Linked DNA regions of Homo sapiens. The protein of the gene in region 1 interacts with the protein of each later gene in a pairwise test. Each region holds a gene or a part of one and is shown in the gene's direction. Other genes may lie near its edges. The genes, in order: RNF41, N4BP3, MTURN and HOMER2.

The links.
Region 2: the proteins of RNF41 (region 1) and N4BP3 interact in binary tests that used the Homo sapiens proteins (3 or more experiments, as listed by UniProt).
Region 3: the proteins of RNF41 (region 1) and MTURN interact in binary tests that used the Homo sapiens proteins (3 or more experiments, as listed by UniProt).
Region 4: the proteins of RNF41 (region 1) and HOMER2 interact in binary tests that used the Homo sapiens proteins (3 or more experiments, as listed by UniProt).

Annotation. Positions count from the first base shown.
Region 1 is NC_000012.12:56,211,549-56,219,830, reverse strand, and holds part of RNF41 (E3 ubiquitin-protein ligase NRDP1), read left to right. Parts: intron 1-3,217; 5' UTR 3,218-3,402; intron 3,403-5,760; 5' UTR 5,761-5,783; coding exon 5,784-5,873; intron 5,874-6,692; exon of another isoform or gene 6,693-6,835; intron 6,836-8,282. UniProt on the Homo sapiens protein: Acts as E3 ubiquitin-protein ligase and regulates the degradation of target proteins. Polyubiquitinates MYD88. Negatively regulates MYD88-dependent production of pro-inflammatory cytokines.
Region 2 is NC_000005.10:178,122,642-178,126,973, forward strand, and holds the end of N4BP3 (NEDD4-binding protein 3), read left to right. Parts: 3' UTR 1-3,440; downstream 3,441-4,332.
Region 3 is NC_000007.14:30,144,359-30,152,640, forward strand, and holds part of MTURN (maturin), read left to right. Parts: intron 1-1,818; coding exon 1,819-1,941; intron 1,942-8,282. UniProt on the Homo sapiens protein: Promotes megakaryocyte differentiation by enhancing ERK and JNK signaling as well as up-regulating RUNX1 and FLI1 expression. Represses NF-kappa-B transcriptional activity by inhibiting phosphorylation of RELA at 'Ser-536'.
Region 4 is NC_000015.10:82,949,055-82,957,769, reverse strand, and holds the start of HOMER2 (homer protein homolog 2), read left to right. Parts: upstream 1-5,049; 5' UTR 5,050-5,234; coding exon 5,235-5,239; intron 5,240-5,247; exon of another isoform or gene 5,248-5,725; coding exon of another isoform or gene 5,726-5,760; intron 5,761-8,715. UniProt on the Homo sapiens protein: Postsynaptic density scaffolding protein. Binds and cross-links cytoplasmic regions of GRM1, GRM5, ITPR1, DNM3, RYR1, RYR2, SHANK1 and SHANK3.

The DNA of each region.
Region 1 (8,282 bases):
GTTGCCCAGGCTGGTCTCAAACTCTTGGACTCAGGTGATCCACTCACTTCGGCCTCCCAAAGTGCTGGGATTACGGGTGTGAGCCACTGCGTCCAGCCTCCTTTCGTATTTATTATTTCATTTGATTTGCAGACAGTATGTATAAGGGGTGCGCGCGTGTATATACACATATATACACACACACACATATATACACCTTATATTACGCCGGGCGCAGTGGCTCACGCCTGTAATCCCAGCACTTTGGGAGGCCAAAGGTGGTGGATCATATGAGGCCAGTTTGAGACCAGCCTGGCCAACATGTTGAAACCCTGTCTCTACTAAAATATAAAAATTGGCTGGGCGCGGTGGCTCACGCCTGTAATCCCAGCACTTTGGGAGGCCGAGGCAGGCAGATCACGAGGTCAGGAGATCAAGATCATCCTGGCTAACGTGGTGAAACCCTGTCTCTACTAAAAATAAAAAAAAAAAATTAGCTGGGCGTCCTGGCGGGCGCCTGTAGTCCCAGCTACTTGGGAGGCTGGGGCAGGAGAATGGTGTGAACCTGGGAGGCGGAACTTGTAGTGAGCCGAGATCGCATCACTGCACTCCAGCCTGGGTGACAGAGCCAGACTCCGTCTCAAAAAAAAAATAAATAAATAAATAAATAAAATAAAAATTAGCCTGGCATGGTGACACATGCCTGTGATCCCAGCTACTCAGGAGGCTGAGGCAGGAGAATTGTTTGAACCTGGGAAGTGGAGGTTGGAGTGAGCTGAGGAGATTGCATCACTGCACTCCATCCTGAGCGACAGAGGAAGACTCCATCTCAAAAAAAAAAAGAAAAATAGGCCAAGCATGGTGGCTCACGCCTATAATCCCAGCACTTTGGGAGGCCGAGGCGGGCGGATCACAAGGTCAGGAGATTGAGACCATCCTGGCCAACATGGTGAAACCCCGTCTCTACTAAAAATACAAAAATTAGCTCAGCATGGTGGCACATGCCTGTAGTCCCAGCTACTTGGGAGGATGAGGCAGGAGAATCGCTTGAACCCGGGAGGCAGAGGTTGCAGTGAGCCAAGATCGTGCCACTGTACTCCAGCCTGGCGACAGAGCAACACTTTGTCTCAAAAAAAAAATAACATATATATATATAATAAATATGTATATATTATATATACCTTATATTAATATATAAGGCAGGTATCATTTTCCCTACTTGACAGTTGAAGCAACAGAAAAACTACAGCAGGGTTACTTGACTTGTTTAAATGTGTAGATTTGGGGGTGGGCGCAGTGGCTGGTGCCTGTAATCCCAGCACTTCGGGAGGCTGAGGTGGGAGGATTGCTGGAGCCTGCCCAGGAGTTCAAGACCAGCCTGGGCAACATGGCAAAACCCCATCTCTACCAAAAATACAAAAATTAGCCAGGCATGGTGGTGTGTGCCTGTGGTCCCAGCTATTTGGGAGACTGAGGTGGGAGGATTGCTGGAGCCTGCTGGGAAGGCGAGGCTGTAGTGAGCTATGATCATGCCACTGTACTCCAGCCTGGGCAATAGAGCAAGACCCTATCTCAAAAAAATAATAATAATTTATGTGGGCCAGGCGCGGTGGCTCACACTTGTAATCCCAGCATTTTGGGAGGCTGAGGCGGGTGGATCACCTGAGGTCAGGAGTTCGAGACCAGCCTGGCCAACATGGTGAAACCCCGTCTCTACTAAAAATACAAAAATTAGCCGGGCATGGTGGTGGGTGCCTGTAATCCTAGCTACTCTGGAGGCTGAGGTAGGAGAATCACTTGAACTCGGGAGGCCAAGGCTTCAGTGAGCCAAGATCGCGCCATTGCACTCTAGCCTAGGTGACAGAGCGAGACTCTATCTCGAAATAATAATAATAATTTATGTGAAAGCACTTTGGAAACATTAAAGCAGCATCCCCAGCCTTTTTGTGGAAGATAGTTTTTCCACAGATGGTGGGCGAGGGGATGGTTTTGTGATGGAACTCTACCACCTCAGATCATCAGGCATTAGATTCTCATAGGGAGTGGGCAACCTAGATCCCTCGCATGGGCAGTTCACAATAGGGTTCATGCTCCAATGAGAATCAAATGCCGCTGCTGATCTGACAGGACATGGAGCACAGGCCTTAATGCTCGCTTGTTTCCTGCTCACCTCCTGCTGTACGACCCGGTTCCTGATAGGCCACAGTCTGGTACTGGTCCATCTGGGGATTTGGGGACCTCTGCATTAAAGCATCATCCTGTACACATAATGTATTATGGATCTATGCATTTTGCTTTTTTTTTGAGTCAGAGTCTTGCTCTGTCGCCTAGGCTGGAGTGCAGTGGCGCGATCTTGGCTCACTGCAACCTCCGCCTCCTGGGTTCAAGCAATTCTCCCTGCCTCAGCCTCCTGAGTAGCTGGGATTACAGGCATCTGCCACCATACCCGGCTAATTTTTATATTTTTAGTAGAGATGGGGTTTCGCCATGTTGGCCAGGCTCATCTCCGACTCCTGACCTCAGGTGATCCACCCGCCTCGGCCTCCCAAAGTGCTGGGATCACAGGCGTGAGCCATCGCAACCTGGATCTATGCATTTTGTAGTCACAGATTTGGAATCATTATTACTGGTAGTTATGTGCACTGAATAAAAGAATCTTAAATCTCCAACAACTCCTCTACTTTTCCTCTTGTCTTTTTTTTTTTTTTTTTTAAGACGGAGTCTTGCTGTGTCGCCCAGGCTGGAGTGCGGTGGCGCGGTCTCGGCTCACTGCAAGCTGCAGCTCCTAGGTTCACGCCATTCTCCTGCCTCAGCCTCCCGAGTAGCTGGGACTACAGGCGCCTGCCACCTCGCCCAGCTAATTTTTTGTATTTTTAGTAGAGACGGGGTTTCACCGTGTTAGCCAGGACGGTCTTGATCTCCTGACCTCGTGATCCACCCGCCTTGGCCTCCCTAAGAGCTGGGATTACAGGCGTGAGCCACCACGCCCGGCCTCTCTTGTCCTTTTCTTTCCCCCTCCCAGCTATGTTCAAATCTACTGGACCCCGTGTGTGTGCTTCCTTAGCTGGTGAGCTCCCTCCTTAGAAGGTAGTCTTATTTGCCTAGCACTGAAAACTGTAGTGCTTAATGGAGTTGTCTCATCCTCCCCAACCAACTGCCAGATCCATCTGTCCAGTCTCCTTGCCAAGTGGAGGTAGTTCTCCTGACTCTCCTTTCTCTTCCTTGTTCCTATTACTAGAGTACTCCTGATTGTGACATCACATTCATCCCCTGGGCGATGGAGCTTGTCACTGGGAAGGAATACTCAGTCGGAGAATAGCCAACAAGATGGGTTACTGGGAGAATCTCTTCAGTGGCACTGAGTGGAGGCATCAGGGGGTTGGAGCCTTGTGAACAGGGAACCTGCCCCCCAACACTTGGAAGGTAAAGAGCTTTGATTCAGAATCCCATTCCAGGCCTCAACCCTCTTCTCTGTCGCTCGGGATTCCTTCTGCCCTTGAAAGTCCAGTTCTTAAAACTTCTTTCTGCAGAAAGCTTTCTGTGATTAATCTGTACCATTTGTTCTTTTTTGTATATTTACAACTTACATAAATTATTGACTTTTACTTGTTAATAATTTGCTTAATACGTTTATGTGTTTTTATGTGTTTTTTTTCCTATGTACTCATTGGGCTCAAGCCTACACCTTAGTTTGAGGACAAGGATTATGTGTTTCTTCTTTTTTTTTTTTGAGACAGAGTCTTGCTCTGTCGCCTAGGCTGGAGTGCAGTGGCATGATCTCAGCTCACTGCAACCTTCACCTCCTGGGTTCAAGCAGTTCTCCTGCCTCACCCTCCCAAGTAGCTAGGATTACAGGTGCCCACCACCATGCCCAGCTAATTTTTGTATTTTTAGTAGAGATGGGGTTTCACCATGTTGGCCAGGCTGGTCTTGAACTCCTGACCTCAGGTGATCCACCCACCTCGGCCTCCCAAAGTGCTAGGATTACAGGCGTGAGCCACTGCGCCCAGCCAGTTGTTTACTGACCTCTTCTTTGGGTTTGACCTTTGGGAGCCCAAAGAAGGGGCATGGCGCCATTGCCGCTGTTTGAGTCCTTGCTCTTTTGGACCTCTCTTTTTTTTTTTTTTTTTTTTTGAGACAGAGTCGTGCTCTGTCACTGGGCTAGAATACAGTGGTGCAATCTCGGCTCACTGCAACCTCCGCCTCCTGGGTTCAAGCGATTCTCCTGCCTCAGCCTCCCGAGTAGCTGGGACTACAGGTGCGCACCACCACGCCTGGCTAATTTTTGTATTTTTAGTAGAGACGGGGTTTCGCCATGTTGGCCAGGATGGTGTTGATCTCTTGACCTCATGATCCGTCTGCCTCAGCCTCCCAAAGTGCTGGGATTACAGGCATGAGCCACCATGCCCGGCCCTCTCTTCTCTTCTTTATCCCCATCACCACCACCACCTAAGTTCAGACTCTTACCGTCACTCTCCTGACTTAGATGTTCTTCCGGTCTCCAGTTTCTCCCCTGTTAACATACTGATTCTAAAATGGAACTATTATCACATTGTTTTTTAAGTCCTTCAGTGGCTCTCTCATACCCTTCAGAATAAAGTCCAAAATCCTCACAGACTTTTCACAGCATGGCCCTTGCTTGCCTCTCCAGCCTTGTCTCTTGACAGGCCCTCCCTCCCACCTCTCAGGTCAGCCTTTTCTTGAATCACTTGAAATTCTCTGAACCTATCATATGCCCTCTTCTGGGCATTTGGATGTGCTATTTTATGTGCATAACACCCTAATGCCCTGCTCCCCCAACATTTAGCTGACTCTTGCCCTACAGGACACGTTTCTGGTGACGCCCAGTCCTGGAAAACTTGTCAAAACCACCCTCTGCTTTCAGCCTGGGTTAGGTATTCATGTCTCTTGTCCTCATAAGGTCCTGTCTCTACTCTGAGTATTTATCACTTTATATTTTAAATGTGTGCTTATATAATGTCTTCCCCCATTAGAATTACATTTCTTTTTTTCTTTTTTTTTTAAGGCAGAGTCTTACTCTGTTGCCTAGGCTAGAGAGCTGTGGTGCAATCTCGGCTCACTGCAGCCTCTGCCTCCTGGGTTCAAGTGATTCTTGTGCCTCAGCCTTCCAAGTAGCTGGGATTACAGATGTGCATCACCACGCCCAGCTAATTTTTGTATTTTTAGTAGAGCTGGGTTTTCATCATGTTGGCCAGGCTGGTCTTGAACTCCTGACCTCAGCTCATCTGCCTGTCCCGGCCTCCCAAAGTGCTGGGATTACAGGCGTGAGCCACTGTGCCAGGCCTTAGAATTAATTTTTTTTTTTTTTTTAGAGACTGAGGCTCGCTGTGTTCCCCAGGCTGGAGTGCAGTGGCGCGATCTCGGCTCACTGCAACCTCTGCCTCCTGGGTTCAAATGCTTCTCCTGCCTCAGCCTCCCGAGTAGCTGGGATTACAGATGCGCATACCACACCCAGCTAATTTTTGTATTTTTAGTAGAGACAGGGTTTCACCATGTTGGCCAGGCTGGTCTTGAACTCCTGACCTCAGGTGATCCGCCTGCCTCGGCCTCCCAAAGTGTTGGGATTACAGGCGTGATCCACTGCACCTGGCCAGAATTAAATTTCTTGAGTCAGCTTCCACCGAGCCAAATGACTGCTGCATAGTAGACTCCCAGTAAATATTTGTTGGATAAATGAATGGATCTTGGCAATGAGTGTATGTTTGTCACATATTTGTAGGCTTCTTCTGAACTGGCCTCTTTTTCCTGTTGTCCTTTCAGGACCTGGGTTTCAGTGATGAGACATGGGGTATGATGTAACCCGTTTCCAGGGGGATGTTGACGAAGATCTTATCTGCCCTATTTGCAGTGGAGTCTTGGAGGAGCCAGTACAGGTGAGTTGGTCTGATGGCAGGTTTGGTGGGGCAACAGGTAGCAGTGGAACTAGTAGAAAATATTCATGGGCAGCGGGACCCATGGTGAAGTCACTGTGTTCTTCTCTCCACCCTCACCCAATAGAGATTTAGGTCAAAGGAGTAATGGTGACTACAAGAATAAGGCCTTCCAGAATCAATCTAGAGGTGGATGCCACAGAGATCCAGTGGTTCAGATTTTTTTCTGAGGTCACTCTGAAAGATTTCTCCTGTAAAACAGTCAGCTGCTTGTTTCTGTCTTGTGATAGTAGCTGGGTAGCTTCCTTTCCTCTACAGGAACTCTTACTAGGTTCCATCTTCCTGTCCGTGATTGAACTTCTGGACTCTCCTAATAAGTTCTCTCTGCATTTTTATGATGTAGTGCTTCAGGTAATCAGCCAGGCTCCCTGCAGGCCTCTTCTACCTGCCTACTGTCTAACAAATAGGAAGGCTGGGCACAGTGGCTCACACCTGTAATCCCAGCACTTTGGGAGGCCAAGGTGGGTGGATCACGAGTTCAAGAGCCATCCTGGCCAACATGGTGAAACCCCGTCTCTACTAAAAATACAAAAATTAGCTGGGCGTGGTGGCACACACCTGTAGTCCCAGCTACTCAGGAGGCTAGACAGGAGAATTGCTTGAACCCGGGAGTAGGAGGTTGCAGTGAGCCGAGATTGTGCCACTGCACTCCAGCCTGGGTGACAGAGTGAGACTCCATCTCAAAAAAAAAAAAACAAAAACAAATAGGAAGTGGGGAACTGTATGTACTGACCTATTTTTTTCCTGGGATCTACTGAAAAGACCAGCTTTTGATACAGCCATGCACTCTGCATTTTGATGTGAAAGCTGCCACCTTCAATAGGTCATTTCTCTGCCAGCCTTGCCAGACCAGAGTCAGTTGTATCATCCTGGGGCAAGTATGAGGAGAAGCTCACGATTACCAGGCAAGTACAATGAGTGAGGTGAATCCTTAAGAGTTGTATTCATGGGACAGCATCCTCCAGGATCCTTATTGCCCTCATTCTGTAAATACCAATTAATCCTTTCTCTTTCCTGGCTATCTAGAGATTATCACATTTTCCAAACCAGGACACTAGGCAATGAGGTTTCATGGCCCTTCCCCCATTCACTGCTCACCTAACTCCCAGGGGCTCCCCTTGAGCCTTTATTTTTTCTCCCAGTACTACTCCAAAAGGAGTACTGATGCCTTGAGCTGAATAAAATTCAGACTGCATTCCAATGGCAACCAACTCTGGACCTGTCTTCTTTCTAGGCCTTTGCAGTCTGCTGCCATTAGAGGCATATTAGATGGGTGTGGAGCAAGTCATCAAGTAGTAGTGTCAAGAGGTCACAGGGTGTGTCAGGTTCCCTCCTCACCCTGGCAGGGCCTTGTCTGTTTTCTGGCACTATCATTTTAGGCAAGTCACTTATGGAAAGGTGAGTCGTAGTTGGTGACAGTCTAGTCAGAAGCCACCCATCTACCTCCAGGCTTTATCTTCTGAGGAGCAGAGCAGGCAACCCTCATGATGCCAGGTTCCCAGACACATTTCTAAGGTTAGAAGGCTCCTGCTAGGGATGCTGATTTCCCCACATCATAATTATTTATTTTTTGAATAGGTGAAAAATGAACATAGTTCAGAAATCAAAAGGTATACAGTGAGAATTCTCACTTCTGTCTTTATTACTGTGCACCTAATTCCCCCACAGATAACTATTTTTATTAGTTTATTTGGTATCCTTCCAGTGTGTCTTAAGGCAGATATAAGCAAATATGAATAGATGTCTGCATATATATGTATTTGTGTATACATATGTATATATGAATATATCTGTGTTTCACCATGTTGGCCAGTCTGGTCTTGAACTGATCTCAAGTGATCTGCCTGCCTTGGCCTCCCAAAGTGCTGGGATTACAGGCATGAGCCACCATGCCCGGCCTTATTTAGCTTTGTTTTGTTTTGTTTTTTTGAGATGGAGTCTCACACTTTAGCCTAGGCTGGAGTGCAGTGGCATGATCTTGGCTCACTGCAAGCTCTGCCTCCCAGGTTCACGCCATTCTTCTGCCTCAGCCTCCTAAATAGCTGAGACTACAGGCACCCGCCACCACGCCCGGCTAATTTTTTGTATTTTTAGTAGAGACAGGGTTTCGCTATGTTAGCCAGGATGGTCTCAATCTCCTGACCTCATTATCCGCCCACCTCAGCCTCCCAAAGTGCTGGGATTACAGGCGCCATCCACCATGCCTGGCCTAGCTTTCTTACATTGAATTTTTGCCAGTAAATATGTCCTCCTCCTCTCTAAATCTATCATCTGAATTATCCTTCAAGACCCATATCAAATTCTGTCCTCTTCATAAATACCTGCCGTGATTGAGCTAGCCTGAAAAGACCT
Region 2 (4,332 bases), on another chromosome or scaffold:
GAGTTTTCAGAAGGAACAACACCAGGGAATGCCAAAAAAACAAAGGGCAAGTCAACCAAGGCATTTTGAGAACATGAAATGTCTTCTTGGTGGGAAGGCTGGGCCCCAGGAGTATCCACAGGCTCAGGCCATGCCCCTCCCCGCACCCACCTCCTGTCTCCCTCCCTCCCTCCATAGGAGTGGGGGGCCCCTAGAAGTGCTCTGCCTCATTCCCTGTTCGTAGGAAGGTGCAGGAGAGGAGGTGGGCAAGCTTATGGGTTTCTTGGTAAAGAGCCTTTACCACAGCAAGGAATGGGAACATTTCCCCATCAGCAACGGGGCTCTAGGGCATTATTAAGTAGGGGTGAAATATGATTGATTTGCATTCTGGAAAGCTCTCCCAGGAGGAAGCATTCCCCACCCCACCTTGCCTCTGTCCTGCGCTGGGCTCCAGGACGGTCAGTCCTCCCGGATCCCTGCTCTCAGCTAAGGCTGGTCCCTAAAACCCACACCTGCCTTTGGTCTCTCAGAGGCCTGGCTTGCCCTCTGGGCCTTTGCTCCCCCGCTGGGTGCCCGGCCTGGAACACAGGTTCTGTCTGGCTGTGTGAGTGGCGTCTCTCCCTTCCTTTGAGGGAAGCTCAGCTTTCTTACGCGCTCATCGTTGGACGGGCTGCCATGCATTGCGTGCTTACTGGGCGCCAGGTGCTGTGCTGGGCCCTTGTGAGTGTGGGGGCACAGGCTGAATTAGATGAGCTCCTGCCGCAGGGGGCCCTGCACACTGATGTCAGCTCACCAGTCTCTTCCCTGACAGGGCAGCTCAGGGAACTTCTGAGAAGTTATCTGCAGAGAGCCCCACCTCACTCCCTTTGGCTACCCTGGCCGTGCCTGGCAGCCCCTCAGGCCCCACAGGTGGGTCCTGGTTGTGAAGTGGAGTTAGTGCACATGGATGTCAGGGGACGGGTGTGAGGCATGAGCTGGGGGGGCCCCCTTTTTCAGGGCAGAGAATGAGGCGTGTGCACTGTCTGCTGTGGGGATGGTGTGTTTATGGCCATGTAAGTGGCAGGTGTGTGTAAAGATGTGCTTGTGGGTGGTGGGTGTGTCTGAGGGGGTGTGTTTGGGAGCCTGGCCTCCAAAAGCCAGTGTCTGGGTTGGAGACAGTGCAGGCCCCTTCTTGGCCCCACCCTCTACCCCATTCCTTCCTGTCAGCCCCAGTCTGTCTTGGCACTGGCCAGGCTTGGGTGGAGCCTGTGTCCCAGACAGATCCCCTAGGCCTATCTGAGACCCATACAGGCCCACACCTGAGCTCCTGTCTGCCTGAGGAGGGAAAGGGGGAGTGGCCAGGTCAGGCAGGCCAGTCGTCTACACACCCCCTTGGTACCCATTCCCATTTCACAAACTCCTCCAAACCCCAAACCCCAAACGGAAATCTCTGGGACAATGGCTCCTCCAGAGGGCCCCTCAGAGCCAGGTGCTGGCCAGATGCCTTGATCACAGCCTCCATGGCCAGGGGCCTGTCAAGCCAGGGGCCCACACACCTGGTGCCAGGGTCCACCTTGGTATACCAGCTCGGCAGAACAGTTCCCCACCCAGCGATTAGGGAGCTGGGCTGGCCAGTACAGCCAGTGGGGAGTGGGTGGGAGGCACCAAAACTTGGCAGCTGTGCCAGAAACCAAAGCCAGGCCCAGATGTAGGGGGAGGGCACGAGAGCTGAACCTGAGCCTGGGGCGTCTCGGAGCTGGATCCCCGTCAGCTCATCCAGGCTGGACAAACCAGTTCCTGGGTCCCCCAGCCGGCTGGGTGGCTCTGGGGCCAACCGACCACAGGTGTCACTGATCACAGGTGTCACCGTAGTGGCTACCACCTCAGGGCAGCCCCTCCCTCCAGCTGGCGGGGCCTCAGCTTCCCAGCTGCCCTGGCTTAGCCTTCCCTGCAGCCCCTCCCCAACAGGCTTGGTCCGGGCAGCCTGCTCTGCGGAAGGTGGCAGCCTCCTGGTGCTGGGCTCCCTGCCTCTGGGGCCTCCAGTCCTTCACTCAGTGTCATCCCTTCCAGCAGCTCCCTGGGCCTCTTGGTCCATCCCTTCAGGCTTCTGACACACTAGTGGCCTCGAGTCACTGATAGTGGTGCCTCCTCCTTACCTTGGCAAGCCCTTGTAGCCCTCTGAGCCCTCATCCTGCAGGCAGAGCCCCTCAGTGCTCTGAGAAACCTGCCCTGAACTCACCGCCTCCCCTGCCTGGGCACTCCCTCCTCCCTGCGCCCACAGCCCCCATGCCAATCTCCGTCAGCTCTTTCTGTGCTGCTGTAATTGTTGGTTTGCCTGTCTCCTTTGAGCTGTGGGCATTGCCGGGGTAGGGTGGTGTCTTCACCACAGCTCCAGAAGGCACTGGTGGGATGTGGAGTCAGGAGCAACCAGAGACCCCCCAATACTAGAATGGGTTTGAGCTTGGGGTGGGGTGGATGGGGAAGACTTACTCTGAATGTTCGTTCACCATCCGTGGGCACCAGGTCTGTGCCAAGCACAGGGACTCCAGGGGCAGCTGCCATTCGTTCCAGTGATGTATTTGGGGCCTTCTCAGGTGAGGAAGCCAAGGTGGCCAAGGCCCTCGGTCCCCTGCCCTGATAGGGCTTACCTGTGGGTGGGGGAGGGAGACCACACATGTCAGAGGTAGTGAAGGCCGCTCCAAATAGTGACTGGGGCCAGGCAGGCGGAAAAGAGAACAGAAGAGAATCCAGAAGTGTTCAGACAGAACTAGGGACAACAGAGGGGCCTCCATGGTGGCATGGGTCAGCAGAGCATGGAGCAGGCAGAGGAAGCCTATCTGTGGGGCTGGGTACATTTCTCTGAGACTCACGGAATGTAAGTGTTGAGGTTTCTGCAAAGAGGGCGCAGGCCCTGCAGTGACGGTTCAGATATTGATAACCCATCCCCCTTGGCAGGTGGGGGCTTAGGCATCCATATTGGATTCAGAAAAGAAAAAGAATGATGCTTCTTGCAACAAAAACAAAAGTGATTATGTCACGAGAGGAGAGGCTGGAGGGCCATGGGAGTTCCCAGCTGGCTCACTCATCCGTCCAGGAGGTGGGTCTCATGGTTTCATTTTGCTTTGGGCTTACTTAGAGTTTTGGCAAATGCAGAGTTATGTAACGAACCCAACAATGAAGATACAGTTCTGTCACCCCCCCAGCATTCTCCTGTGGCCCTCTAGTCCACCCCCCGCCCCACCCCAGCCCCTGGCAACCACTGATCTGCTTTCACAATAACCGTATGGGGTTTTTTCTCTTTCCTTTTTTGTGAGCGGTATTTAATTCCTTTGCTCTAATATGTAATATTAGAACATATTACAAAGTAGCAAGAAAAATACGACATTGGTGTAAAAATAATCTACACCTCATGGAAAGAATGAAGAGCCAGAAATAGATTCTATTCTGTAGAAAATCTTACACAATAAAGGACTTCAAAATAAGGGTAAGGAAGGATGCTTTAACAAGCGGTGCTGGGATAACTGGATAAAAATTTGGGAAAAAAGTCATACTATGTGCCACCCCTGCATTTATTTTATTATTTTATTTTATTTATTTTTTTGAGATGGAGTCTCACTGTGTTGCCCAGGAGTGCAGTGGCGTGACCTCAGCTCACTGCAACCTCCGCCTCCCGAGTTCAAGCAGTTCTTCTGCCTCAGCCTCCTGAGTAGCTGAGACTACAGGCGCCTGCCACGACGCCTGGCTAATTTTTTGTATTTTTAGTACAGACAGGATTTCACCATGTTAGCCAGGATGGTCTCGATCTCCTAACCTCGTGATCCACCCGCCTCAGCCTCCCAAAGTGCTCGGATTATGGGCGTGGGCCACGGCGCTTGGCCCACCCCTGCATTTATTGAGTTAAATTTTAAAAATCCTATCCTAGGAAATTGGTGGTGGGGCTCAGAAAATGATACCCCAAAGTATGAAGCTGTGGGAGGCTGAATGCTTTGAACTAAAGTATCTGACCATCGCTCACTCCTTTTCCCTCCCAAAACCCTCCTGAAGCGCAGGGAGGGGCCTTCTCTGATGTTCTCTTTTGTTTCTAAGGGAAGTTCCTGCAGAAGGAATGCCATTGTCTTGAGCCCTTTCCCTAGCATCTCATAAAACATGGACAATTAACTCACAGGAAAGGATACTGAAGGTGATACCATCTCTTCTGAGGACTGGGCTGCTTGAGAGGTTTTATCTGCATGACAAGACAGCCTTTGTTTGCCATGCATTTCCTCCCCTCAACCTCCTAGCGTCTGCTGCCACCTCCTCCCAGAAACCTCAGGCCCCAGTTTTTGGAGCTCAAATGCTATTTAGACTTCATCAGTCTGGCCCTTACTAGAGTCT
Region 3 (8,282 bases), on another chromosome or scaffold:
CTTACTAAGTAGAACTTTTGTTGTTCTTCCAGAATCTCCACTGATTAAGAATCAACTGGCATAATGGATATACAAGTACTTTGTACCATTACACTTTTGTACAATGGAAGAGACTATTACATAAATGACATTGTGGTGGTTTGACAGCTTTAAGGGTCTCTAATTAGTAGGGAAGAGCATTTGAGCTGTTCGCTAAAGCTAGAGAGCCCAGACGTTGTCTTTATTGGGTTGGGGAAGCCTCTAGAGAAGTCTGCTGGCATGAGAGCAACGTGTGTCGAAAATGGACCTTTGCAACTATGAAACACAGATAATTGGGGTATAAAGATGGTACATTGGCACCTAGTTATTCTCATTTGGATCTGAGCAGTATTTTAAGTCTGTAGGTCTAGTTCTCAGAAACCCTGCAATGAGAAGAAAGGAGAGGAAATGTGTTTATTGAGTGATAGGGATATGGGGCCAGTGTGTGCTTGGCATGGACCATGTCTCCACATAAGTCTTCTATCCTGCTATCTGGCCGCTGCATCTTGTTCTTATCTGCCAGATGTCTTTCTTTCTCCCAGACCTCAATACTTTTTTTTTTTTTTTTTTTTTTTTGCCAGTGTTTAGCCATCCTGGATCCGTCCCCACTAAAGAGTGATTCTTGGTACCTGACAGATACTCTGATGTTACCCTGGAAGCCCCGTGTCCCTGACTTGCTTAGATATGCAGGGCAGGGTATTCTGCATTAAGAATGCTCAAACCTATTTCTTGGCCTTGTTCCAGGTCTTTGAACATTTATGAGAGAGGCTTGCCTAGTCTTAAAGATGTGCTAAAATGGATATCCTCACATGGAAAAAAGCCTTACCCAGTCTTCAGAAAAAATAAAACCTAGACTGGGCATGGTGGCTCACGCCTGTAGTCCCAGCAATTTGGGAGGCTGAGGCAGGTGGATCGAGACCAGCCTGGGCAACATGGCGAAACCCTGTCTCTACCAAAAATACAAAGAATTAGTCAGGTGTGGTGGTGCGCACCTGTAGTTCCACCTACTTGGGTGGCCAAGATGGGAGGGTCACTTGAATCTGGCAGGAAGAGGTTGCAGTGAGTTAAGATCATGCCACTGCACTCCAGCCTGGGCAACAGAGCAAAACCCTGTCTGAAAAAGAAAAAGAAAAAGAAACAAAAAATCTAAAACCGATCTCCTCTTAGTATGTGTTAGATTGTGAAATGATGCTTCGGTATGATGTCCTTTTAAAGCATTTTAGGGAAGGGAAGTTTTCAGAAAGCCTTTGTTTTCCAGTGACATAGTGGTGACTTGGTGGGTTCTCTTAAGTTATTTGCATTTGGAAGTAAATTTACCACCACGCCTACTCACAGGCCGATCTGGGTAAAGAATGTCTTGTTCCAAGTTAATGCTTACAAACTATGCTTAATTAATCTTTCAGCCGTAGCTGAAAGCAAAGTTAAGGATTTTGAAGGCAAAGGCTCTGGTTTCTCCTTCCCCATGTCTGAAAACCGCCCTTAGCCTGCACAAGGTGAACAGTGGAAATCATTGGTGAGGAATGGCCACCCACTGCCCTCTTTACTGTGTAGGAGCAGATCTGATGATGAACAGAGCAGGTGAGGTATGGACCAAAAGCTCGGGGGCTTCTATAGATTAGACATTTTTTCTTCCCTTTCAACGCAAACAAATCAAGAACGCATGTATGAATTTTACTGTAGAATGGAGGCCTTCTTCAAATTGATGTTATTAAGAAAATCTGCTTGGCTTTTCTGAACTTCACACTGAGTGTAGTGACTGTGTGTCTTTGTTTTCTCCTTCCGTCGCCCGTGGGCACGCAGCACGTGTGGAGTGAGAGCGAGGACTGCCTGCCTTTCTTGCAGCTAGCACAGGATTACATCTCCTCCTGCGGCAAGAAGACGCTCCACGAAGTCCTGGAAAAAGTCTTCAAGTCTTTCAGACCTGTAGGTGCCTGCTTGGCTTCTCACCACAGCTTGTTTTCTATGGTGATTGTGTTTAGAATAACAGGGGCGGTGGGGAAGGTGGGCAAAACCTGGGATGACTAATTGTTTTTCTCTTGTCTGTCCTGTGGCTTAGAGATAGCAGCCAGTATAGGGAGGCCGAGGGCGGGAGGAGGGGGACGGGATGTGACACAGCTGTTTGCTGCAGGGATGATGGTTATTTCTAGCATCACTTGAGTTGAGAATCCCTGATGGGGGGGGAAGCAAACAGATCCTTTATGAGACAACTGAGTGTTCCTGTTCTCCTCTAGGAGACTTGGAACCATGGCACTTGCAAGCCCAATGGAGGTTCTTTTATAATAGTGGGGCGTATATTTGGGGATTGCTGGGAAGCTGTATACAGGTTATATTAATACCTCCACGTTTGTGGGTATGGAAAAGGATGAAACTGGATACTGGCTCTATTCTTTTCTATTTTTAAAAAGTCTCTGTTATGAGCTACTGTTGCTTTGTTTTCCCCTTTTGGGATTTAGGAATGTGTATTTCTGTGGCTAGCTGACAGTCTGTTTTCATTCTAGCTGATAAACCTTTAAAATGAATGCTCACTTCTATTTTGAAGATTACCTACTTCCCTTTATCTTCATTGGAAGATAAAGTCCCATCACCAGTGTCTCAGTGTTTCCCCTAAGTTCGATTCCCTGCCCACTGTAAATACTGCACATGTTCAGTGGTATTTGCTAGAATTTCTATTTATTTTTCAAATCTGTTCTAATGCTGTCTCCTTCTCTGCTGCGTTTTTCAAGCTTGTCTTCTGTTTCTTTGAACATAGTAAGCTTGGTTGCATAGTAGACTATGTCTGATGATATTTCATTTTGTAAGTCTGTTTGGTCTTCTTTTGTTTCTGCTAGTTCTCAAACCTGGTATCTTGTTTCTCTGTGTGTGGGATTATCTTTGTGTGCTAGTTATTGTATTTGAAAGTTTACATGTAGGAATAAAGTGAGGCCTGAGATGACAGTACCTTACTCCAGAGAGGATTTCTGTTTGCTTCCGTCAGGACTTGGGGGCCTATTAGTCTGAGACACCTTAGCACAGTTTAAGTCTTGTGGTTCTCTGATGGCTCCCGGGGGTGAGAAGGCAGGATGCGGGTCTGGCCTCCTGTGCCTCCTCCTCGTTCTGAGGGTGTGGGCCTCTGGGGGCCCAGCTTCAAGTGGGGATGGTGTATAGTCTGCTCCTTTGGAAAACTGTTAGAGTAGCCTGAGAAAGCAGTGAAGTTTCTAGCTGCTGCTTCCAGGTCAGCAAATGCCCCCAGGATAAAAGCAGCTTTTTATGTTTGGCTTACCCTCTCCTGGTTAATATTTTATATTTAAGAAGGTATTTTTCATATTTAATTCAGCTTTTTTTAGTCATTCTCAATGAAAGAGTTGGACCCAGTCACTTTGTGCACCATTGTAAGAAATGAGATTTCAGTGGCTTTTGTCACTCTGATTTGCTTAAGCAAATGACAGAAATCAAATAGAGTGACAAAAACCACTGAAATCCCTTTTTTGTTTGTTAATTTTCTAAGCCAGTTTGGCACATTCAAAATAGATACTTGACTTAAAAGTACCAGTCTGTCCCACATTCATTCATTCAATAAATATGTTTTGGGTACCCACTGGGTACATGGCACTGTGTACTGCATTGTTCCTGGCACTGGAACTAAAGCATGAGAAGCTTAGATCTCACAGAGCCTGTGCTCCAGTGGGGGGAGACAGGATAGACAAGGACACACGTAATGTCGTGAAATGATGCTAGTAATTAAGTGCCAAAGAGAAAGGAAAGAAATCAGGGAATGGGGTAAAAAGTGTCAGGGGTCCTGGAATTTTTGAGTAGGGAACCAGGGAAGGCTTTGCTGAGAAGGTAACATTTGAGGAAAAACTTAGACTACAGAGTGGGCCATGAGAAAATCTAGGGGAATAGCATTTTCAGTAGAGAGAGCAGCAGGTATGAAGGCCTCGGGGTTGGACAACACCTGTGTCCAGGGAGCAGGAGCGGCCAGTGTGGCTGAAGGAATTAGAGAGAGGTGAGCTGGAGGAATTCCAGGAGTCACAGAAGGACATGGGCTCTTACTCTGGAGTGATGGGGAGCCCCCCAAGGGGTTAGGCAGAAGAGGGATGTCACCTGACTTCACATCTTGAAAGCCTCCCTCTGATGACTGTGTTGAGAACAGGCTGTGTTAGGGGAGGGACAGAGAGGCCATTGAGGCCATTGCTGTCATCCAGGTGAGAGATAGTGGTGGCCTGGACTGGGACGGTCACGGCAGAGGCGGGGTGAGGGGTTGGATTCTGGAGATACCTTGAGAGTAGACCCAGCTGGACTTGCTGGTGGATCAGAAGTGGGATGTGGGAAAAAGGGAGAGAAGGCTGACCCTGAGTTTCTTGCCCAAGCAGTGAAGGGAATGGCCTAGTCATTTACTGAGATGGGGAAGGCTGCGGGGGCGGGTGGTGGGGAGTTTGGGGTTGGTAATGTCAGAGCTCAGTTTTGGACATGTCAGTGTTTTAAATGCCTGTTAGACATCGAAGAAGGGAGATCACATTAGGCAAAATTAAAAAGAAATGGATTCCTGTAAATTTTAACCAGAAGAATACCCGTTAGCAACTGAGGTTCGCTTTGCAGCAGGTTTCCTCACAGGGGCTCACTCATTGACCTGCCGCCAGCTGGTCTCTGTGGGTGTCGTCTGTGGTGGCAGGCAGCCTCCCCTCCCTGCAGAACTGGCTCACCTGGGAAGGGGAGCTCCAGCCGGGAGTCACTGTGCTGTTTTTCCTTACCGAGGCTCTGGTTGTATTTTGGCAACCAGGCTAGCCACGTTAAATGAGGAAACAAATGCGGTCCAAAAGAAATCCGGATGTGCAGCTGAAAGCAGTTGGATTGGTTGAGGAAGTTCTTTCAGGTGGCGCTGAGATGTGTCACGTGGGCCCACAGCTTTGGTGTGCTGTTGCTGGGCTTCCAGGTTTCCTTTCTGAAGTGGAACTTTACCTTGTGGGCAGGGATGTGGCTCCCCAGGTGAGGAGGCCTTGACGTGGCACAGCATGCCCTTTGGTGAGGAGGTTTGTGGGCTGGGCCGCCCTCTGGCAGGGCCGGTTTACCCCTGAGGGCAAGGCTGGTGGGAGGCACCTTCCCGGACTGGTAAAGATGAAGTGCTGAAGGCCTCAAGTTTCTCCCAGTCAGGATGCGCCCCAGACTGAATGAGAGGGAGCGTCACAAACCCGAATAAAGGACCACAGAGATCCCTGGAGAAACTTTGACACTCTCCACCTCCACCAAATAGAGCACTGCTTCCCAATGGCACCATTTATCTGTTTGTTTTACGTAAGGGAGGTTTGTTACAGATAAGACATAGGTAGGGGTTTTGTTGCTGTCATCACAGTTGAACGTATTTGTTGAAACGCTTACCCAAATGCTACAGGTTATCAAGTGGGTAAAACCAGCACATCATTTCCCTGAAAATACATGGGAATCTGATCAATCCATGCAGCTGCTTTTTTGTTTATCGTGGGCCAGCCCCAGGAGGAGTGTTTTTACCTTCATCTTAGAGCAGTCCCCTGCTCTGCCTACTGCACTCTACTGGTTCTTGGGAGAGCTATTTCTGTGAGCATGTTCTGCAGGGGGTTGCTTGTCATCTCTTAACCCAATTATGAGGGAACAGGTACTACAGTCATGAAGAACCCAAGGTCTGTTGTCAGGCTACCCGGATTTAAGTCTCAGTTCTACCACTTGCTGGCTGTGTGACCTTAGACAAGTTACTTAACCTCTCTGTTTCTCAGTTCATTTGTAAAATTAGAAAATTAATGATGATAGTTCCCTTAGGGTTGCAGTGAAGATTAATGGAGTTTTTGTTGGGTACTCAGTGCAGTGCGTTATCCACGGTAGGCACTAAGTCAATGTTAGTATGATGTGGATAGGATGAGGATACTAGACAAAATACTGTGGAGAAGTGAGCAGGTTACCGTTGGGGGGAACCTTAGATTATTGGTGGAGAGAGAAAACAATTTGCTAAGTGATTTCAACATGAAAAGGCATTAGAAGGGTAAGTCAAAAGTTTATCAACATTGGTTTTGGTAAAATTACAAGCATTCACTGAGTACCTGATCCACACGACTCACTGTGCTAGAGGCTAGGACTCCATAGAGGACCAGTGGATGCACCTGTCCTCCCAGAGGGGCACGTGGCCAAAGCGCTCAGGGTTATGGATGATTTTTTATTTTCTTCTTTTCCACATTTTCTAAGTTTTCTATGATCACATTATCAGAAAATATATTTTTTAATGAAACTGTGGCTTCCAGCGTATTCGAAGGGCTAGGAGTATCAGTGTGAGCAGGCTCATTGAGGAACAAAGCCAGGCAGTGGCTTCATGAGGAGGTGGGACTGAAGAATAGCCGGACCTAGACGTGCTCAGAGCAGGGGCAGGGCTGGCCCAGGAGGAAGTCCAGGAAGCGTCCATCTTGGCTGCCTCAGCTCCGTTTCCTTAGAAATGGCTCCATGTGGTGGAAGGTAGATCGGCTCTGCCCTGTTTTGCTCCCATGCTGTGTGGCCTCTAACAGGTACACTTGGCCTCAGTGTCCCCAGCTTTAAAATGGGGGCAATACTGATTTAGCTGTCTTGTGGATTCATGGGGAACTTTGAAGTCAGACTGAGAACCCAAAGGATTGTCAAAACCCAGACACTCTGCTAAATTTAGTCTCAGTTTCTGGCTCCTAACAGGTATTAGGAAATGTTTATTGGATGGGTAAATGACTGTGGATGCAGCCGGCCACCTTCCCTCGAGTGACCCACATTCTACTCCACTCCAGTGACCTCCTACTTGCTAATGTTGATTGCTCAGAGAGGTATGATTTTTACCTATTTTTTCTTGCTACTGGCATGTCGTATCCAAATGGCACATGTATGCACATGACAATGCCAGGCAGGCTGTTGTTGGCATCCACGAGCAGGTACTGCTACTTGTAGTGGTTTCAGAAACCCCCATCAATCACTTTGGTAAGTGTGAGTTGGATAATCGTCAGAACCTTGCATTTTTCTTAAGTGACCCTCCATTGACAGTTGCTGGTCATACACGATTGAGCTGGAGAATGAAACAATGGTTACGGACCTAAATAATGGTGATCATGCCGTTCAGTTTTCCCCACCATCTTTTCATGTTTTATATTTAGTGTCAACTGACAGACTTACTGCTGGGTAGAAAACAGTTTACAAGAGAAGAAATAGCCTACTATTTCCAATTTAGCAGTGAAACTAGACTTTATCTTTGCCCTTTCGAATTCTCTCAAAGTGTTATGGGCTTAACAAGGAACTATTGCTTCCTCGAGTGTGTTCTTCTCCTTACCAACGCTGTGGACATTAGGGTCCTGAGTCCCCTATTGCTCTTGCAGTTTTTTGTGCTGTTTGGTTGTTGTTGCTTCCATGGCCCGGCCTGGAGTTGGGTCCTGTGGTCCTTGTAGATTCTCACTCAGTTGGCCCAAGTCCTCTCCTGGGCTTGCTGTGTGACTCTGCGTTTCTTCTCTCAAGAAAGAGACATTTCTGCCAGAAAAATCCCCCTAATTCTGGTTCACTGGCATAAGCAAGATTGATATTTTCAGTTTGCCACAAGTGGCTGGAGAGCTGCGGCTTAAATCCCACAGGAAAATCCTGTGTCCCAGAAAAAGTCCAATTCTTGCCTCTACTCATGGAGTCTGGTCAAGAGCCTGGAAAAGAGAAAGAATCCACCTGTCAGAAGCTGCCTGGGTGGATCAGGGAAAGTCTGATGAGAAAAGATTATGCACACATGTGGGTTTCATAATAAACATGGAATATTGACAGTTTATCTTTTTTTTCTTTTTTCCTTTTTTTTTTTCTCATTCATGTTATGAACATTCAAACCATTCTCTTTTTTAGAGAGTATGATGGCCTCAAAAGGTAAGAGAGTGCCTCCTCCTGCCCATTGTGCTGCATCCATCTTGCCACCCTTTTTTCCTTAGGGTCAAGAAGACTGACTGACAGACCAGGACCCCACCAGGGGTTTCCCCATACCGCCAGCATCATAATCATGAAGATATATGGTGCCACATTTCCCAAATGCTTTAGAGTCCTACCACCCCTGGCTCTTGGACTAACAGTATTCCCATCACCTGGGAGTGTGTTAGAGATGCAGAATTGGGTCCCACTTGAGACCTGTTGAATCATCATCTGCGTTTGAGGTAGATTGCTGAGCACATTATCCACACCTACACATAGTGAAGGAGAAGAGAGACTGCCTAAGGGGAGTCCCTGGAAGGTACATACAAGGATCTCTGAAGCCACAGGGCACTTGCTCGATGCACAAAAGCCAT
Region 4 (8,715 bases), on another chromosome or scaffold:
GGAGAGGCAGAGGACAGATGGGACTGTTGGAAATCGTTTATAGCTCACCTTCCTAAGGGCAGGCCCTTGGCCTGATTGGAAACAGCAGGGGCTAGGGCTGGTGGTCCCATACTGATCTGGTGTCATCTTAAAGAGACAGCCCATAGTCTTCTCTGATCCTTAGGTGCCCTGTAGAGGGGTCCTGAATCTATGGAGGGCTCTGGATACAGATTGGCAAAGTGTTATCTGGCAGGAAGTACACAAGCTGTTTCCATGGTGGGGGCAGATTGAGAATCCTCAAACTGTACTAAATTTTAAAATGTTGATTATATAAGAACCATTTTGACAATATTAATTCAGTCACAATAAATGAAAATTTCACCCTAGTTCCACCATTATAGCCAGTAATAATAATAATAATACCTGTAATGTATTGAAGATGTACTATACTAGGGACTGAGCTAAGCACTTTACAGATATGATCTCATTCACTCTGTTTTTTTTTTTTTTTGAGACGGAGTCTCACTTCTGTTGCCCGTGCTAGAGTGCAGTGACACAGTATCTTGGCTCACTGCAACCTCTGCCTCCTGGGTTCAAGTGATTCTCCTGCCTCAGCCTCCCGAGTAGCTGGGATTACAGGCATGTGCCACCATGCCCAGCTAATTTTTATATTTTCAGTAGAGACAGGGTTTCACCATGTTGGTCAGGCTGGTCTTGAACTCCTGACCTCAGGTGATCTACCCGGCTCAGCCTCCCAAAGTGCTAGGATTACAGGTGTGTGCCACCACACCTGTTCTCATTCACTCTTCTTAATAGTCCAAAGAGATATCGCCACTTCGTAGATTAGAGCGCTGAGGCTCAGAGAAGTTAAAAACTTGCCCGTGGTCACAGATAGTCAATGGTAGATCCAGGACTTAATGCAGGTCTGAGTCTAATACTGATGCCTTTACCCTATATTCCTTCTGCCATCCTAATAAACTTTTTCATTTTCTATACTCCAGGCCTTGTCCATATTTTCTAATTTTACATAATTATACTCATAGCACAGCTGTAATTCAGATTATTTTACAAACTTAACTTTATATCCTAATACACATCCCATCCACCAAGTCTTATTGAGTCTACCTCTAAAATATCTATAATCTGTAATCCACTTCCCTTCATCTCCACCCTTATCTTTTGTCTAGAGCCTCTTAACCAGTCTCCATGTTTTACTCTTGTCCCCTTCTTATCCCCTCTTCTCCCAGGAGTGAGTGATATTTTAACAATATAAACCAGATCACGGCATTCCCCAACCCATCAGTGGGTTCTCACTGCATTTGAATAAATTGCAAATCCTTAATCCAGCCAAAGGGCCCTGCATACTTCACCCATGCTTTGCTAAGCTCACTGCACTCTAACCACACTGGCCTTCTCCCAGCTCTTCAGAACAGCATGATTCTCTACCACCTCAGGGCCGTTGCAGTTTCCTCTGCTTGGAACCCTCCCCTCATGCTCCCCATGACTGATGCTTCTTTGTCTTCAAGCCTCTTCTTTTTTTTTTTTTTTTTTGAGATGGAGTCTCAATCTGTCACCCAGGCTGGAGTGCAGTGATGCAATCTCAGCTCACTGCAACCTCTGCCTCCTGAGTTCAAGTGATTCTCCTGCCTCAGCCTCCTAATTAGCTGGGATTACAGGCATGTACCACCATGCCTGGCTAGGTTTTGTATTTTTAGTAAAGATGGGGTTTTGCCATGTTGGCCAGGCTGGTCTTGAACTCCTGGCCTCAAGTGATCTGCCTGCCTTGGCCTCCCAAAGTGCTGGGACTACAGTCATGAGCCACCACACCCAGCCATCAGGCCTCTTTTTAAATGTCTCTTCAACAGGCCATTCCTGACCATCCTCCTCAACCTAAATTAGGTCTCCTATTCACACAGATCGTAGCTTATATATTTGTGTGATTATTTGATTAATACCATTCACACAATCTTATAGTCCTATGACAGAAGGACGTCTGTTTTGCTGAGCACTTTATGCCCAACACAGTACCAGATACACAGCAGGTGATCAACATTTATTGAAAGAATAAATATATTTCTATGTTACTATATAGGCTTCACAAATATAATGTAATAGCTGCATAATACCCGACAGTTATCCCTTTAATTAATGGCTTTAATAATACATTTGTTTCATATGCAGTTGAAAGAACTGACCTTTTATGGTTAGAAAAAAAAATGTTTGAAGTCCCTGGACCAGCCATACCAGAAATCTGAGCACACTAATAACAACATTATGCATGTACATGGTGAGCCTAATTTTGCTGTTGAAAGTAAAAATACAGGCCGGGCATGGTGGCTCACGCCTATAATCCCAGCACTTTGGGAGGCCGAGGCAGGCGGATCACAAGGTCTGGAGATCGAGACCATCCTAGCTAACATGGTGAAACCCCATCTCTACTAAAACTACAAAAAAGTAGCCAGGTGTGGTGGCATGCGCTTGTAGCCCCAGCTACTCGGGAGGCTGAGGCAGGAGAATTGCATGAACCCAGGAGGCAGAAGTTGCAGTGAGCCAAGATTGCGCCACTGCACTCCAGCCTGGGCAACAGAGTGAGACTCCGTCTCAAAAAAAAAAAAAAAAGAAAAAGAAAAAGAAAGTAAAAATACGTAGATTATAGGTTTTGAAATCAATTTAGTAGGTTATGAGCAGTACTGCTTTTAAAAATAGAACAGAATGGGCCGGGCACGGTGGCACACGCCTGTAATCCCAGCACTTTGGGAGGCTGAGGTGGGCCGATCACGAGGTCAAGAGATGGAGACCATCCTGGCCAACATGGTGAAATCCTGTCTCTACTAAAAATACAAAAATTAGCTGGGGTGGTGGTGCGCGCCTGTAGTCCCAGCTACTTGGGAGGCTGAGGCAGGAGAATCGCTTGAACCTGGGAGGCGGAGGTTGTGGTGCCCTGAGATCATGCCACTGCACTCCAGCCTGGTGACAGAGCAACACTCTGTCTCAACAACAACAACAACAAAACAGAATGATGTCTGAATGCCTGCCTGGCAAGTGAGAGGATAAACATTGTTTTATATAACTTTTTGTTTCTATTTTATATCGATATACCTATAGACATAGTATGTATGTGCTGAAGTATGTACCAGGTTGCAGGTTGTAGTGTAAAATATATTTCTTACTGTGGATTGTAGTTTAAAAAAATGAAAAACTCGGCCAGGCACGGTGGCTCATGCCTGTAGTCCCAGCCCTTTGGGAGGCCGAGGCGGGTGGATCACGAGGTCAGGAGATCGAAACATGGTGAAACCCTGTCTCTACTAAAAATACAAAAAAAAAAAAAAACTGGGCGTGGTGGCATGCGCCTGCAGTCGCAGCTACTGGGGAGGCTGAGGCAGTAGAATCGCTTGAATCTGGGAGGTGGGGGTTGCAGTGAGCCGAGATCACGCCACTGCCACTGCACTCTAGCCTGGGTGAGCAGAGTGAGACTCCGTCTCAAAAAAAAAATAATAAAAATAAAATAAAAATGAAAAACTCTGATTTCAGTGGCTTGCCTTTGAAGTTATTCGAACACTTCAGAATCCTCAGGTATTACCTGATAAATGACTTGTTCAGTGTTCTACAAGCTCACTTTCCTGATATTGCTGATTACTATGCATGGAGGATTTGGAAACTCCCAAGATTATTTTATTTTTTACAAACTTATTTTGTATTTATTTATTTATTTTTTTGAGACAGTCTGGCTCTTTTCACCAGGCTAGAGTGCAGTGGCATGATCTCGGCTCGCTGCAACCCCTGCCTCCTGGGTTCAAGCGATTCTCCTGCATCAAGCCTCCCGAGTAGCTGGGAGTAGCTGGGACTACAGGAGCACGCCACCACACCCGGCTATTTATGTATTTAATTAATTAATTTATTTATTTTTTGAGACGGAGTCTCGCTCTGTTGCCCAGGCTGGAGTGCAGTGGTGCGATCTCGGCTCACTACAAGATCCGCCTTCCAGGTTCACGCGATTCTTGTGCGTCAGCCTCCGGAGTAGCTGGGACTACAGGCGCCTGTCTCCACGCCCGGCTAATTTTTTTTGTGTGTGTGTATTTTTAGTAGAGACGGGGTTTCACCGTGTTAGCCAGGATGGCCTCGATCTCCAGACCTCGTGATTCGCCCGCCTCGGCCTCCCAAAGTGCTGGGATTACAGGCGTGAGCCACCGCGCCCGACCTGTCCCTTGACTTTTTTACTGTCCTGAGATGCCAGGCTTATGTGGGCGGTGTGTTCCCAGCAGAAGATGATCCCGTGGAAGTCCCGGGGGATGAAGGTTAGGTTAGTCCCAGTGCCAGCCTTTGGTAGAAACTCAGGACCTGATAGGTAGAAAGGCGACGAAGAGAGCCTGCTCTTCTTCAAGTTCTACTTTTGCCATCCTAATTCCCCTCGCTCTAAGGATAAAACCAAGCTTGATGAAGCCGCCTTAAAACTGCCCCTTCAAGTGGGAGCCCTCATCTCATTTTTATCCAGGAAAGAGCCCAGAGCATCTGCCGCGGCCTGTAGGCTCTTCTCTGCCAGGCTGGCTTCCGAAATTTCACGGTGGCGGGTACCTTAAGGCCACTCGGCCGGGCAACTGGCAGGAAGATGAAGGTGGGCTTTAAGGAGGAGCACAGCTATGCCCATCTCAGACTCTGGAGACCCGAACGAACTCTAATCTGAATGTGTGACCTTGGGCAAATCACTTACCCTCCCCAGGCCTCGGTTCCCTTATCTGCAAAGTAAAGGTAGCCCTAAAGTCCCCGCCAGGTGTGAATGGGACTTTAAGTCCATCAGGCAGGATGTTGATGGCACTGCGCCAGGGCCCCGGGTCGGCGTGGGGCGGGGGCGCGCCAACGCGGGGCCGGCACCGAGGACTGGGTGGCCCGGGAGAAAAGCGGCGACTGCGCGGCTGCGCGGGGGACGGTGCACACAGTGCTGCGCCCCCCGCCTCTTGGCTCGCTGCCGCGGCCCGGGGGCCACGAGGTTACGTAAGGAGCCGGGCGGGGGTAGCGGCTGGGGAGGGCGGGGCGGGCACCGCCCCAGCGCGGCCGCCCAGCCCCCGCCCGCCCGCGCCTGGCGGCGGTGGCGGCAGTGGCAGCAGTGGCAGCCGCGCAGCCCCGCGGAATGGAGCGGCGCCGGGGCTGAGCCGGGCGCGCACGGGCCGCCGCATGTGCCGCGCGGGGAGCGGCTGCCGAGCGGGCGGAGAGCGAGCGCGAGAGGCCCCGTCGGAGCGGCCGCCGGAGCAGCGCCGGAGATGGGGTGAGTGAGCCCGCGCCGCGCGCTCTCCGCGCGCCCCTCCGGAGGGACTGCGGGGCCGCGGCTGGCGTAACCGGGCTCGGAGCCTCCCGGCGGGCCGGCCCCCGCCTCCCCAAGCCGGAGCGAGCGCACACTCTGCGCCCGGGAGTCTGGGGCCACCTGACCCGCGCCCTCCGCCGGGGCACGCGGACACCCAGCAGGGGCACCCTGGCCTGGGCGCGGAGCCCGTGGCCCTTCCCCTCCCATACAGCCCGGGCACGGGGGCACCTGACGGGGACCGGTGCCCTGGCCGGCCTCCTGCCTCGGCCATTCCGCGGTCTCTTCGCCCCTGGGCGCAGTCAACTCCAGGGCCTGTGTGAGTCTAAGCAGTTTGTCGTTCTCCACGTTTGGATTTATTACAAGCAAAATGGAAATCGAAGTTTTCCTGGAAATAATCAAATAATAATAAACCTCCAGCGTAGGAATAGTGGACTTTGGATCTGCTTTGAGATGCTGAAGATGATGGAAGTCTATAAGGAACCTAGGTGAGGCTTCAGTCTTTGAAACAACTGAGTAGATGCTCAGGAGGGAAGTTGAAATACTCTGTCGAAGTGACTAATGCTTCTGAGTATATAAAGTAATTTAAGCTTTCCCCTCGGCGTCTCTCTGAGCAGTAGGCTCTGTGAGTCTGGGAGCCACTGTGCTAATAGCACAATAACTCCTTACATCTGCTCACTCTATTTGGGCACACGTTGACGGTTTGCCATACGTATTCAGGGGACACTTATGTCCACTTTACAGATGAGGAAACTGAGGCACAAAGTGGTTCGGTGACTTCCCCCAGGCTGTGTAGTTGATGAGCATTTGTGTAGCAGGGGTGGCCTTGCCACTGCCTGACGTGGGCATGGAGGCGGGTAAGTGAACCAGAATTCCTAAATCTCTCTGTTCCCTGCTGCTGAACCCAGCATTCTTCCAACAGCCCTTCGCAGGACTCAAATGCTTCTGCTCCAAGGGTCTAGAGATCTTGCTTTCCTGTTTGGGATGGGTGGGGCCTGGGAAGGCAAGAGTGCAGTGGAAGGAGCAAGATTGTCCTGGTGCCCTGGCTCAGCCCCCCTGGGTCAGTGGCTTTCTTGCACCGTACTCCAGGTTAAGTTTCTGGAGTCATTTTGCCTGGTGAGTCTTAGCCATGGGAGCTGCAGAGTGTGTGAGGGGATCAGAGGCAGGCCAAGAGGAATTTTGAGGAATGGAAGTGTGAGGGCTGTGGGCCAACATGAACTGGACATGACAGAGGTGGGTGACAGAGAGGAGGAGGCGAGATGAGCAGCGAGGGCTGAAGAAGTGTGCTTACATTTAGGAGATTTCACATGAACAGCAACTGTGGGTGATTTTACCCAGAGGCACCCAAGTTGGCAGGCCGTATTTCTGTAACATTTCCAGTGAGTCCTCAGTGGACTGTGAAAAGGCTGATCTTTGAGCAGTGAGAGCCTTTGAGGTTCTCAGATTTCATACTTTAAAAAAATGTACAGGGAAAAAGGAGTTGGCAAATGTAAGGTCTCAGAATGGAAGATAAAAGGGATCCGGTAATTTTAACTCTCTTTCTGGCCCTCCCTCCCCCTGGCCAACACAAAACCAATCCACCGTACTTGTGTGATCAAAAACAAGTACTGAAACTCTGTGGTTGAGATCAAATAGTTCTGTGGAAATGAAAATGTTTACTCACTCATAAAACCTTAAAGAAAATGTCAAAAAATAATTTTTGTTTGTGGAGAAGCAGGGAGGAGACGCTTGGGGATTTTGTTTAAACACAGAATATGTCTTTCATGTAATTTTAACATCATTCGATAAATGTATATATTACTCACTTCTCGTAGATAAAGGCTGGTTTGTAACTCCTACCTACCTCTGCCATTTTTAATAGATCCATGTCTTCTATTATTTATGTGAAAATACAAGCCATGGTCGTAAATTGAGATGCAGCTAAGGGCTGGGGAAGCAATTCAGACAGGAGGGTGGAGGGAGCCGTTTTAACTGAAAATAGAACCAATGTCATCCTTTCTGAGAGTTGTGTAGGATGGAGGGGGAAGAACTTTTTGAAAGGGCAGCTAGTAGAAAACCTTGCTGCGATCCTACAGCTTCGTCATGGCTCTGCTGTGTAGACAGGACTAGGATTTAAGGGAAAAAAAAACAAACTATCTGAGTTTACCTCCCCCCAACTTGAGATGCTTCTCCTCCCTCAAATGTTCACTACCATTTTCCACTTCTCTTCTGCGAAGTGTTCTGTGTTAAGTGTGGCCTCTCCAGTGAGTTTGTGTTCTTACTCCCTAAGGCAACTATTTCATACCTATTCCCCTTTCCAGACCTCTCCCCTTCCTAGGCACACCCCGTGGCTTCCCTTTCAATTGACAAGATAGGCACCTTTGACCAAGGGAATGTCTTCATTTTGCCACCACCTAGTCTAGTATGCAGCTGCTGCTACCTTCTCCTACCTGCCTGCTGTGCTGGATGACCTGTCCCTCATCTCTTCCTACTAGGGGCCCCTTCTTCTGGGGTAGCCTCCATTCCATCCCTTCCTCCTCCCATCTTTTCAGAGATTGTCTCTCCTTCCTAACCACCTTTCTCTCCGGGGTCTTCTCCATCAGTATAGGAGCATACATCTGACCAACAGAACTTTCTGCACTGCTGGAAATGTTCTGTATCTGCGTGGCAGCCACCAGCACATGTGGTTATTGGACACTTGAAATGTGGTTGTTGAGACTGAGGACCTGAATTTTTAACTTAATCTAAATTTAAATAGCCACATGTAGCTAGTGGCCACCATATTGGATAGCATAGCTTTAGTTGCTCTCATCTTAAAAAGGAGATCTCCCTCCCTCCTACATCCCTCTCCTGTTTCACTTCTTTGCTCTTCTTCACCTGAAAACACCTCAGAAGATACATCCAAACCCACTGGCTCCATTCACTTTCTCCTGCCATTTGTTCACTCTCCATACTCTACAGTCTTGCTTCTGCCTCACCTCTGCACCAAAACTGCCAGGGTCTTGGGTGACCAGGGGGTTGCCAGATCTCAGCCTCACCTCACTTCACCTCTCTCAGCAGCATTCCTAACAAATGACCACTCCCTCTCCTCAAAACAACACCCCTCTCAGCTCCTCTGGCCCCACTGTTTCCTGCTTTTCTTCTTACTCCTAATCATGGGGTTGCCCAGGGACTGGTCCTGGTTCCTTTTCTCTGTCCACACTGTCTTCCTAGGTAATACTGTCCCACCTGCAACTCCTCCCCACCCTCCCATGGCTTCAAATGCCATCGATATGCCCATGATGCCCACACTTTAATTTCTAGCTCAGATCTTTCTTGGAGCTTCTGACTCTCGTCAATACATGGAGCTCTTGATATGCCTTCCAGCTCTCACCTGCCTTCCGTCTTCCCCATCCAAGTCAGTGGCCCTACCATGCACTCATTTGCCAAGAGTCATGTTTGAGTCCTCTTCCCAACCTCTCACA